Regions from separate parts of the Homo sapiens genome. Here region 2 is linked to region 1. The links come from fine-mapping of genetic effects on gene expression. A gene starts in region 1. The other region holds a variant in brackets. All regions are shown on one strand. Distances are between the middles of the regions.

The links. PIP is the estimated chance that this variant, and not a neighbour inherited with it, causes the effect.
Region 2: its variant is the best candidate, but not a certain one, in a credible set for the expression of ANGPTL5 in transverse colon (GTEx, PIP 0.73).

What each region holds. Positions count from the first base shown.
Region 1 is chr11:101,913,922-101,919,313 of GRCh38, forward strand. ANGPTL5 (angiopoietin like 5) reads right to left here and starts at 2,601. Exons shown (of 9, transcript NM_178127.5): 1 at 2,098-2,601. CEP126 (centrosomal protein 126) reads left to right here and starts at 1,089. Exons shown (of 11, transcript NM_020802.4): 1 at 1,089-1,491. The coding sequence starts at 1,364. RefSeq lists an enhancer at 1,008-1,107.
Region 2 is chr11:101,889,358-101,894,749 of GRCh38, forward strand. ANGPTL5 (angiopoietin like 5) reads right to left here. Exons shown (of 9, transcript NM_178127.5): 9 at 1,317-2,241. The coding sequence ends at 1,922. Among named protein-coding and RNA genes, the nearest start is that of CEP126, 23 kb to the right of the region's middle. The variant G/A (reference allele first, on the strand shown) is at 2,390.

The sequences.
Region 1 (5,392 bases):
ATGTCAGAATTGTATATTTTATCCTGTTGGTATGCTTCTGAAGGAGAGTTCATGTGTTTTGTGTCTTAAATCGAAACTGGATTTGTTGTGGCACTTTAAAATCTGTCGCCAGTGTACATTCCAATTTGAGTCATTGCAACCAAGTTTGCAAAGATTGTTTTAAACAGTTTCAACTGGAAAAGTTTATTATTTGAAATCTTAAAATGAACAAATTAATTCACAAAGGCAGAGACATTTGAATGGTGGGTGAATAATCTTTATTTGGTCTGTACTTTCTGCTTCCAATCTGGGAATTTTTCCAAGAAAACACTGACTGAAATACAGTCAGAATTTATATATGCATTTACATTAGGCTCCAACAATAAGATTCAGCCTTTTTCAAAACTGTCACTTGCATAGCCAATAAACTAGTGTCTCAAAAATCCATTTAATTTTCCATACTTCCCAAAACCATTTCAATGCGATGATCTCTTTTGGCATATCTTCCCAAGAGATTGCTAGTTTTGCTGTGATGGTCCATTTCCAGAATCTGGCAGCAATGCGAGAACCATTAGGAGGCTTTGAAATGTAGACCTTCTAAGTAGGGCAAAGGCAAGGAAGACGACTGCAGAGGGAATGCCAGAAGCATTACCGAGTGGATGAGAGAATGCAGGGAAGGAAAATTTCCACTTCACAAAGACATTTTAAAGAGACGGTGTTTGGGGATGATGATGCCACAGAAAGACTCACAACTCAAAATCTCACAACAGGATTCAGTAGTTTAACAAATTCAACTCCAAATTGTCCCCCAGACAATCACTGCAGACTCCTCCCGGTGGCAATTGCCTGTATCTGAGGATTTTACATCTGTCTTTCGTCACTGTCGGTACTGCCACAAAAACACTCTCATAAAAAGGGAGGCAGAACTGCATCAGGCTCTAAAACAACACTCAGCTCACCCCTCGCGCAACAACCCGGGTCCCTAGGGATGCTTGGGTTGCCACCCGCCGCTCGAAGCTGGAGGGGCCGCCGGAGCCTGCGATTGGCTGCTTCGGGCACATCGTCCCGCCCCGACCTGTAGCTCCTCCCAGGTTTCCGTTGTCAAGGACGCGCCGTCGGTTGTTGTCAAGATGGCGGCTGCAGGGTTGCTGCCGCCCCATCTGCTATTGCCCGGCGAGGTCGCCGCTGCCTCAGCTGCCATCGCCGCTACAGGCACCAGTGCCGCTGCGCGGGAGCTAGGGCTGTCGAGGCCAACCCTTCCGCGCCCGTGACGCGGGGCCTGAGAGACGGAGTGTAGGGAGGGGCCGAGCAGGAGGAGGAGGAAGCCGGAGCTGCCATGAGGGAGGTTCTGGGGGCGAGCAGACAGGCGGCGCTGAAGTGAAGGATGCTGGCGGGGAGGCCCGGAACCCGGAGCGCGGTCGGGGAACTGGGCACTGAATCATCGGACAACCTCGACAGAGCCCCCCTCGGCCCTCGGGAGAGCGGCGGGCATCACCGACCTGGCTCTTACCTGTATCCTTCCCAGCCTGTGGCTGCCAGGGTAGCGATGTTGAAAACGGGGCCCATCTTTTTCCAATTAGATTCCCATTACCTTTGACGCAGGGTGATCAAAACTAGCAAGTCATCTTAGTGCAGATATTTCCTTTAGCAACTGTCGTGTCTCACCTTAGACCTGAAATTATACCATTTTATCTAATTCTGTGGCTGCTTCCCCCCATCACCCTGTTATCCTACTCCCATTCTTCAACTTTGTAAAATTTTTGTGAATTTTAAAACACATCAACTGTGTATTCTGTGGGGATATTTTTATGCCATTATGTTCTTTACTTACATATTAACTACTTCCTGATTTATCGTACTACTTGGAGAGAGAAATTACACAAATAAGTAAAATGTTTTGCTATCCTAAAGAGTCCGTTTTAACAGTTATCCTAACACAGCCCTAAATGCATTTACCAGAGCTGCTAAAGGCTACACAGTTTGGTAAGTTGTTTTGTTTTCCATCTCTGCCCAGTCTGTTGTCAGAGCGACAGAAAAGAGGAAATGAGAAACAGGGGACCTGGACGCTTTACAATCTGGATTAACTCTGACTTTTCTCGAAGAGTTGGTTAAGCCTACCTTTGATGTTGCTGTTGGTTGCATTGTAGAAAATGGAAAGAGGAGAAGTATTTTGTTATCAAAATCTGTAAATCAGGTTTATTCCTTTAGAGACTGTTGTGATGATTAGGATTTAACCTTTGTATTCCCAAAGGACTTGGTTGGCAATGATGGTGTTGTGTAATCATCTTCAGTCTTGTCAGAGATGAGTGTCTTCTCTTTCCAAGTTAACTCTGTTTTCTTATCCCCTTTGTCTCCAATTTCTAGGATGTTCTTTGTACTCTGTTACAATTTTAGCAGCAAGTCAACAATTTGTATTGAGTGCCTGCTCTTTGGCTGACTCTGTTCTAGGTTCTAGGGATACAAATCTAGTGAGGAAGACAAATGTGTATAGAGCTTCACTAAAAGTAAAATATCTCTTCTCCGATCATGCTTTCTGCAATCTTCCATCCCTTCAGTCTTTTCTTTCTTTGGGCAGGTTCTCAAAATGGTAGCTTGCAATAGCTGCTTCTAGTTCCTCTCATCTATTCATTATTAACCCCATTCAGTTTGGCTTTTGCCCTTGCTGCTCCCCAAAATTGCCCTCTTAAAGGTTACTCTGAAATGAACACAATCATTTTCTGTATGGATTTAATTCTGGCCTCTTGACATTATATTTTCTTGGACACAACTGCTATTACACGACCCTGATTTATCTCTAAATCAGAAAATAGGGAAGTATTGTAAATGGCTCATTGAGAGTGTATTTTCTGTTATTTTCATTAATAAAATGGTTGTAGGCCTCATTTTTTAAATTTTATGTGGTATAAATTTTTGATACAAATGCCAAAGAAAATATTCATAAATAGAATCCAGCAATACTTTGAATGAACACAACCAAATAGACTCTATTCCAGAATTAGAATGACATTTCCTATAAAGAAATACAACACTAAAAAAGATCCTTAAAGGCTAAATATATAGTTAAAATTAGGCAAGTTATAAATGAACATTTTAATAGATGACCAATAGACTTTGATAAAATCCAACAATGTGTGTGTGTGTGTGTGTGTGTGTGTGTGTGTGTGTGTGTGTGTGTGCTGGTTTATATATATTTTTGCTAGTTTGCATATGTGTGTATATATATGTTTAGATAATATATATTTAAATTGGAACAGAGGAATTATTTTTGAACATAATAAAGATTATAACACTAAATCAAGAACATTATGTTTGCTAGCTGGAAAAACACTAAAGTACCTTTTATATAAGTTTAATTGGAATGTTCTTTGTGTCTATAATGTTTCCCATTGGATACCTAGCACAGAGTAGGTGCTCAAATTTACATGACTAAATGAAAAAAAGGAAAGAAAGCAAATGAAAGGACCACAGCCTTAAAATAAGCAAGTATGTGGTAACATTTACATTTCAATTTCAAATATGAACATGATACTCAGAGGCCATCTGGCTTTCTGTTGAAGACATTTTCTCACTGGAGTCAGAATTTTCTGACTCTAAAGGTTATAAAACAACAAAACCTTATGAAGTTTATTTAATTAAAATTAGCTAAAGTTCTGTCATTTCAATCTCTTTTTCTCTTTTGAGAGTTCAAATAGAAATGGAATTTAAAAAAAAAAAAAAAAGGAAGGTCTCTCATGTCCCCTTATACCTGCCTTTTTTTCCTCATAAATATCTCTACCCTTCAACCCTCCCATTTTATCCTAGCACCCACCTTGCCTCTCCTTTCCTCTCCAGTTTATACCCTATTCTTAACTATTTGAACTTTCTCTCACCAACATCTTTGGCTATTTGTACCCCAATCATTCTGCCTCAGCCACTCAATAACTACTATAGTCCTGCTCCTTTACTCCTTCATGCGAATAATAAAAATGCTGTCAAAGAAAAATCACAAAACAATACAGATTGTACCACTAAAGATTGATGGTTTCCAGCTTCACCTAAACAGGAACAGGGTTCTTTCTTTTTCCTATGAATGCCTCTGCCAGGTCTCTGTCACCTTCCATCACACTCGATAGACTGTCTTACCACTTGATAAGACTTGGATGCCCTGACAGGTCTGTTCCAACAAACAGCACAAACACACACACTCCCACCCACCTGTCTTTTTTTCCCCCCAGGCTCACTGATGGGATCTTACTTTTACTATAGAAAGTGAAGTGAACCCATTCAGCTGGGCCCAGTGGCTCACATCTGTAATCCTAGCACTTTGGGAGGCCGAGGTAGGCAGATTGCTTGAGTCCAGGAGTTCGAAACCAGCCTGGGCAACGTGGTGAAACCATATCTCTACAAAAAATACAAAAATTAGCTGTGTGTTGTGGTGCATGCTTGTAGTACCATCTACTTAAGAGGCTGAGGCAGGAAGATTGCTTGAGACTGCGAGGTGGAGGTTGCAGTGAGCCGAGATTATGCCACTGCACTCCAGCCTAGGCAACAGAGTGAGACCCTGTCTATAAATAAATAAATAAATTGTATTTTGCTAATACATACATAATAAAACATAGTTTTGTACCTTGTGTTTCTAAAAGGTACTGCCCCATGCTCATGAGATTTTGAAACTTAGGTACATAATACATTTCTAATGGCATATACTTTTGTATAACCCCCTTAGGAGCCAAGTTTTCTATAATGCACTAAAAGATATAAAAATGCATATGCCTTTTGTCCTCATATCTACCCCAGAGAATTTTCTCCAAGGGAATAATTCAGGAGGTTTTTATTAAATCATTACTATATTCTAAGAACCATGCCAGGCGTGAGAGTTACAGAAATGTAGAGAAGACACTTATCATGTACTCATGAAGGTGTCATCAAGTCATCTAGTGGAGGTTAGAAAAGGCTTCAAGGTAGAACGAACTGCTTGAGATGGCCCTGAAAGGATGAGTAGAGTTAGCCAAGCATGTGCCAAGAGATAATGGTATGATACATCACGGGTTGTTCTGTTTATAATTATCTTAGTGCGTCTGGACATAGGATTCATACAGGGAAATGTTAAGAAATAAAGTTGAAAAAACAAACTATATTATAGAATGGTTTATATATAGGTCCAAGAACTTTGGAATTTTTCATGAAGGTGATAGGGAGCTTTTGGAGAACAACAAAGAGAAACACAATCAGATTTGCATTTAGCTGACTTTGTGTAGGTTCAAATAGAGGTTTAGAGTAAGAAGAATTAGAGGAGCACTGTAGTCGTCCAAGCAAGGGATTTAGAGTACCTGAGTTAAGGGAGAGGAAGAAGGTACAGTAGAGGAAAAATCGAATCAACATAGCTTTAATAGATTTGGGGAAAAAATGGGTTATATAATACATAGTTATTTGT
Region 2 (5,392 bases), 25 kb before region 1:
GAAAGAAAAAAGAAAGGAAGAGAAAGAAAGAAAGAAAAAAGAGAAAGAAAGAAGAAAGAAAGAGAAAGAAAGAAAAAGAAAGAAAAAAGAAAGAAAGAAAGAAAGAGAAAGAAAGAAAAAGAAAGAAGGAAGGAAGGGAACGAAAGACAATTGCCCTTATCCCTTAACATCTCCTAAGAGTCAGGTCTGAGTATCTGAGGCTCAGGATTATGACCTGAAATATACCTTCTCATTTGCAATAGGGTTTGAGACCTCTTAATACTTTTAAAGCATCTCACAAGGCATCCTGGAAGTAATGTTGTCCATGGTTAGTCAATTATAAGTCAAATATATCTTTCCACTCCAAAGCCCCCCAAAATTAAAATTTCTCACTGCTCTCTGGGTCCATCTTTCCATTCAGTATTCCATTGATTCCCATTCTGCTTTCATCCTCAATTTTTCCATCATTTCCATAGGCTTTAGATGGGATAAAAATGTGAAGCCCCTATCTCTTGCAGTACCATAAGGGAGATTGCCTCTGTCCCAGCTCAGCAAAGATTTCAAGGCCCAGATTCAAAACAACAGATTGGCTTGCTAAGCAACAAAATTATTGCCTTGATTTGTAGGGGAATTTGCCTCGTGGTGCTCATATCATTACCGATATAAAAGGCAGTTCTGTGCTTCTCCAACCTGGCACGCATCTGACTCCACTGCCAAGATACAACCTCAGCTGTGCCTCTGTGATATGCATTGGAGACCATGGGAATCCATGTGCACCCTCCTGCAATCTTATCTCATGTAATCATCTCATGTAATCCTGTTCACGATGTATTCACTGCTTTCAGAGGATATCAAAGTGAAAGCACCTTAAATGACGACCTTATTATCATTTTTGTCCATCCCTGAACCCAAATCAGATTCTGGTTCTATTCTGGGCTTAGCTATGTCACCCTGACATCTATATCCTCAAACTTACTTTTATTCAATCCTCTTCCCACTTAATTTTTCAGCCACTTTTCCCCTCCCTTGAGTATTATATAACCCTAACTCTGGACAAAGTACCTTCTATTCAAAACTAATTCTTGATCATTTCCCTTGTCTCTCTTATCAGTAACTGACACTTGGCCCTGCATGTTCCCTGCTGTCCTCTCCTAAGGAATCCTTACCATCCAATTCCCTCCACCTTTGTAGAAAAAGTAGAGGGGACCAGCTTATTCCTAGAGTATATCTAGAATTGATTCATCACTGTTTTATCGACCATCCTTCATGTAAACTACAAACCATTCCTACTGGTTCAAAAAGAGTTCAGATAAAGACGTATTTTAGAATGCAGCTGATCAGGATATAAAAGTACATATATTTATTACAAACAATAACAAAATAGTTAACCATGATTAGATATGAAAACAAGAAAAACTATTTGGGCAGCAAACTCTTACTACTTTTAAAATGGTATGGCATCACCTAGAAATAGTAAGGTTTTTACATCATGTGTAGCTTATATATTAATCTGCATAAAGTTATTTATTGTAACTGTCTTCAGTAGAAATTATCTGTAGATTATATAATCATATAAAGTATAAAAATAAGTAAAATATTCCCTTCAATTTTCCTTACAACATATTATGGTTTAAAAATGCTTCAAAGAAAAGGCAAAATCCTTTAAAATCACTATAAATTTTAGGAAGACAAGTTGTAGTTCACTTGAAACAAATTTCATTGTATATTGTTAATATAGTCAGAAGTAAAAACATACAATAAGCCATGTTTTCTTTTATAGAATACTACAAAATTGAAGTTTTCTAATTAAACTCATAACATCTAAATGCCATCTACAGTTAAATTTTGCCTAATATGTTTGAAACACTAAGTGAAAAGATAAACTTTTAAAAATCTTTAATATATTATCATTGTAGAACTTGCATTACAATGTTAAATGAGATTATTTAAAATATGGATTGTACATTCTTCTAATTTTCATTGAAACAGATTTAATCTTGACAGGTGAGTTGTTTTTGGTCCACGTGCCCCATTGAATTCCAGTTGCAAGCAATTTTCCAGAGAAGTGATGAATGCCATTTAGATTTGCTAGACCACACTCGTTAAACCACCAGCCGGTCTTGTTATGGAGGTGACTGCAGCTCTTCACAGACTGACCATTGACCAGGCATGCAGGGCGACACCCATCATTATCAACATCTGATGTGCTAAAAGGCATTGCATTTTGATTATCTTCTTTTTTGAGACCCCGGAATGCATCACCTGGGAAAAAAATTTTTAATGATCGAATTTAAAGGAAATTTCTATTATTTTAATTAATCATTACCAGCATATTAGGCAAGAGCACCACATCTGGAAATAGGGTTTAAATTATTTTCCTACTGTTTATCATGTTAAAATTCTCCTACTC[G/A]AAGATTCAACATGCCACAATCTGGTGATGAGTTCCCCAACACAACAGACATCTTTAAATAAATATTTGATATAAAAGTCACAGTCCAAAATGGAGTTTTGCTGTGTAGACAAAACCAGATAATTTAGGCCAAAAATTATAGCATACAGAGCTGTCATAATTTGGACAGACCAATATGATAATTGATAATTTAGGAAAAAAATTAATTTACACAGGGTAGGTTTCCTTACCACTACCATTTATGTCACTTTAGCTAGAGAAACTTTTACCTTTAAGAAATTTAGATTTACAGTTACAGAAGTTGGGGTTTTTTTCTAGGGGCCATCAACTTTATACAGAATACCAAATGCCCTCAAGAAAAATTCAGATATACTGTTGAGGTGTACCTTTTCTTCACGGCTCTTCACATGATTTATGGACCAATTGGATAGTAGTTAAGACAATACCGTTTTTAAAGGGCTTCTACTGAACATTGTTTTATTTTGTTTTGTTTTGTTTTTAAGACAGAGTTTTGCTCTTGTCCCCCCAGTCTGGAGTGGAATTGCATGATCTCGGCTCACTGCAACCTTCACCTCCCAGGGTCAAGCGATTCTCCTGCCTCAGCCTCCCAAGTAGCTGGCATTACAGGCACACACCACCACACCCAGCTAATTTTTGTATTTTTAGTAGAGATGGGATTTCACCATGTTGGCCAGGTTGGTCTTGACCTCCTGACCTCAAGTGATCCACCCACCTCGGCCTCCCAAAGTGCTAGGATTACAGGCGTGATCCACTGCTTCTGGCCTGAACATTGTATGTATGGTATCCCTCGTATTTACAATAACCCTGCAATGATTAAGTATCTTGTCCAAGATGACCCAGTTAACTCAGTGGCAGGAGCAGGAGTCATATTTTGTTTCATAAAATTCCATAAAGTTAAAGATTCTAAGTAAACCCATAATGCCTCCATTTCACCTATATGTAAGCTTTGGCTAATGTTTGAAACACTAATTTAAAAAAGAAGCCATATGCAATCTGTGGAGAAACCAAGCTCTATGTTTGTTTCATTATTTCTGAAAGTTTGGCATCTCTTGAGATAAATCTTTTGAAAGAGCCTGAAGAACTTCATTAGCAGTGGTGGCCTATCCTATACCCCAGTTCTGCTGATTATTAAAGTCTCTGACTCTGCACTTCATGGGAAACAAAACACACACATTGTAGGTATTTTCAGAGAATATATAATCTCCAACACCCACACAGTGTGATACTTTTCCAAAGTTCCAGTGAGAGACAATACCCATGGAGCATTGCCTAAACAATGTGATCACTCCATGGATACTCTCCCTAGATAAAGTCCGACCACCAGAAGGATCATATAGCACATAAGCTCCTCAAGAGATTTTATTTAATTCATTTAAAAAATATATGCATAGGCTTATTTCCTTAAAAATAGCCTATTATAATATAGCCATCATGTTTTCTGTGAGAGTGTGGTTGGAGAACATAACACTTTTCTTTTCCCTAAGAATCCAGAGACATTTATCTCAAGTCTTATAATCAGGAATAGTTGGGATTCTCGTGGAACAAGTGTGTTGCTCAAATATTCAAATTCATATCTCTGTTTTTGCTCCAAGCTCAAAGCCAAATTTGTGACCTGCCTTTACCAAACACCTGATCACATTTAACCCATTGGTTTTATCTGTATTTCTATCATTACATTCTGCTGACACCTTTTTCTTTTATTCTTTTGATTACATTATGTGATCAACAGTTGAAAGTTACTTCATAACCTTGTTGGGAAAATGTAGAGTACAGTATGGCAAAATTTGAGACTTTTGTAACGAAAAAACTTTTGCCATTATCAATATTATCCTTTAATTAGATCCTAGTCATCTTTCAGAGAATCCCCACATAAACTTTTCCTAATATAGTATATTCCACCTTTAGATAGTTCTTTGCACTTTTAGAGAGCAAGCATTGAAAATCATATATTGTAACTTTTTAAACTTTTCCCTATAGATCATGATTGGAATTTCAGACTTTCACCTAATATCACAAGTGTAAACCCCTCAGGTATCATAGATTCCAACCATGTCAGACAACTCTCTGTGACCTATAATTTTCCTCCCTCTATGCCTTAACTTAAGCTGCTCTGTTTGTCAGCCTTCATTTGCTAAAAGCCTAACCATTCTTCCAAGACTAGATCAGTGGTTCTCAACTACAAGTATGCCAACATATCCATCTGGCTTAAAATAACTGAATCAGATTCTACAGGAATATATACTTCTAAAAAGCTTCCCATGTTGAATCTAACATTAACAGCTTGTTAAAAATTGCTTTTCCATGAATATTTTTTGGGTGCAATCAACTGAAATCATTCTCACCCTCTTTCTGACCCCAAAAGTTCTATCAGTATTCTGTATTTCCAGTGTTACTTATCTTCCCCTTTATATTGGGAGCAGTTAAAGACCTGGGAACATATATCATTTATTTTTTGATTTCTAACACTAAATATACATAATGAACAAGTACCACAAACAGCAACAAGGGAGTTGAATTTAGTGCTTTTTAACTCAAATGCCTTTACATTTTCAGCATTAAAATGCAAGTTTAACATCAAGTATTTTGAAGTTCTGACAAATTAAATTTATTTGGAAATGAGCAGATGCATCAAAGTATAATGAAAAAACACTAAACTTGTTGTTCTGTCAGCCTGGATTCTTGCCTTGGCTCAGGTGACGTGATCTGGGAACGTTGGGCAAGTCACTTTATCACTCAGGTTTTTTCACCTGTAAAGTGAGATGACTAGAGATCATCTCTAACAGTCTGTCACTTCTAAATGTCAGCCTCTCTGAACATGAAAATGAAAATGCCTTCACAGCCTACTCCACAGGCTCTCTATCCAAAGAATCAACTGAGATTACATAAGGCAAATTGTTTTAGAGACTATAAAGCACTTCAGAAGCATGAGGTAGTACAATGATCATAACAAAGTTTCAAAACTCAAGACTTGGCCAGCTTTCT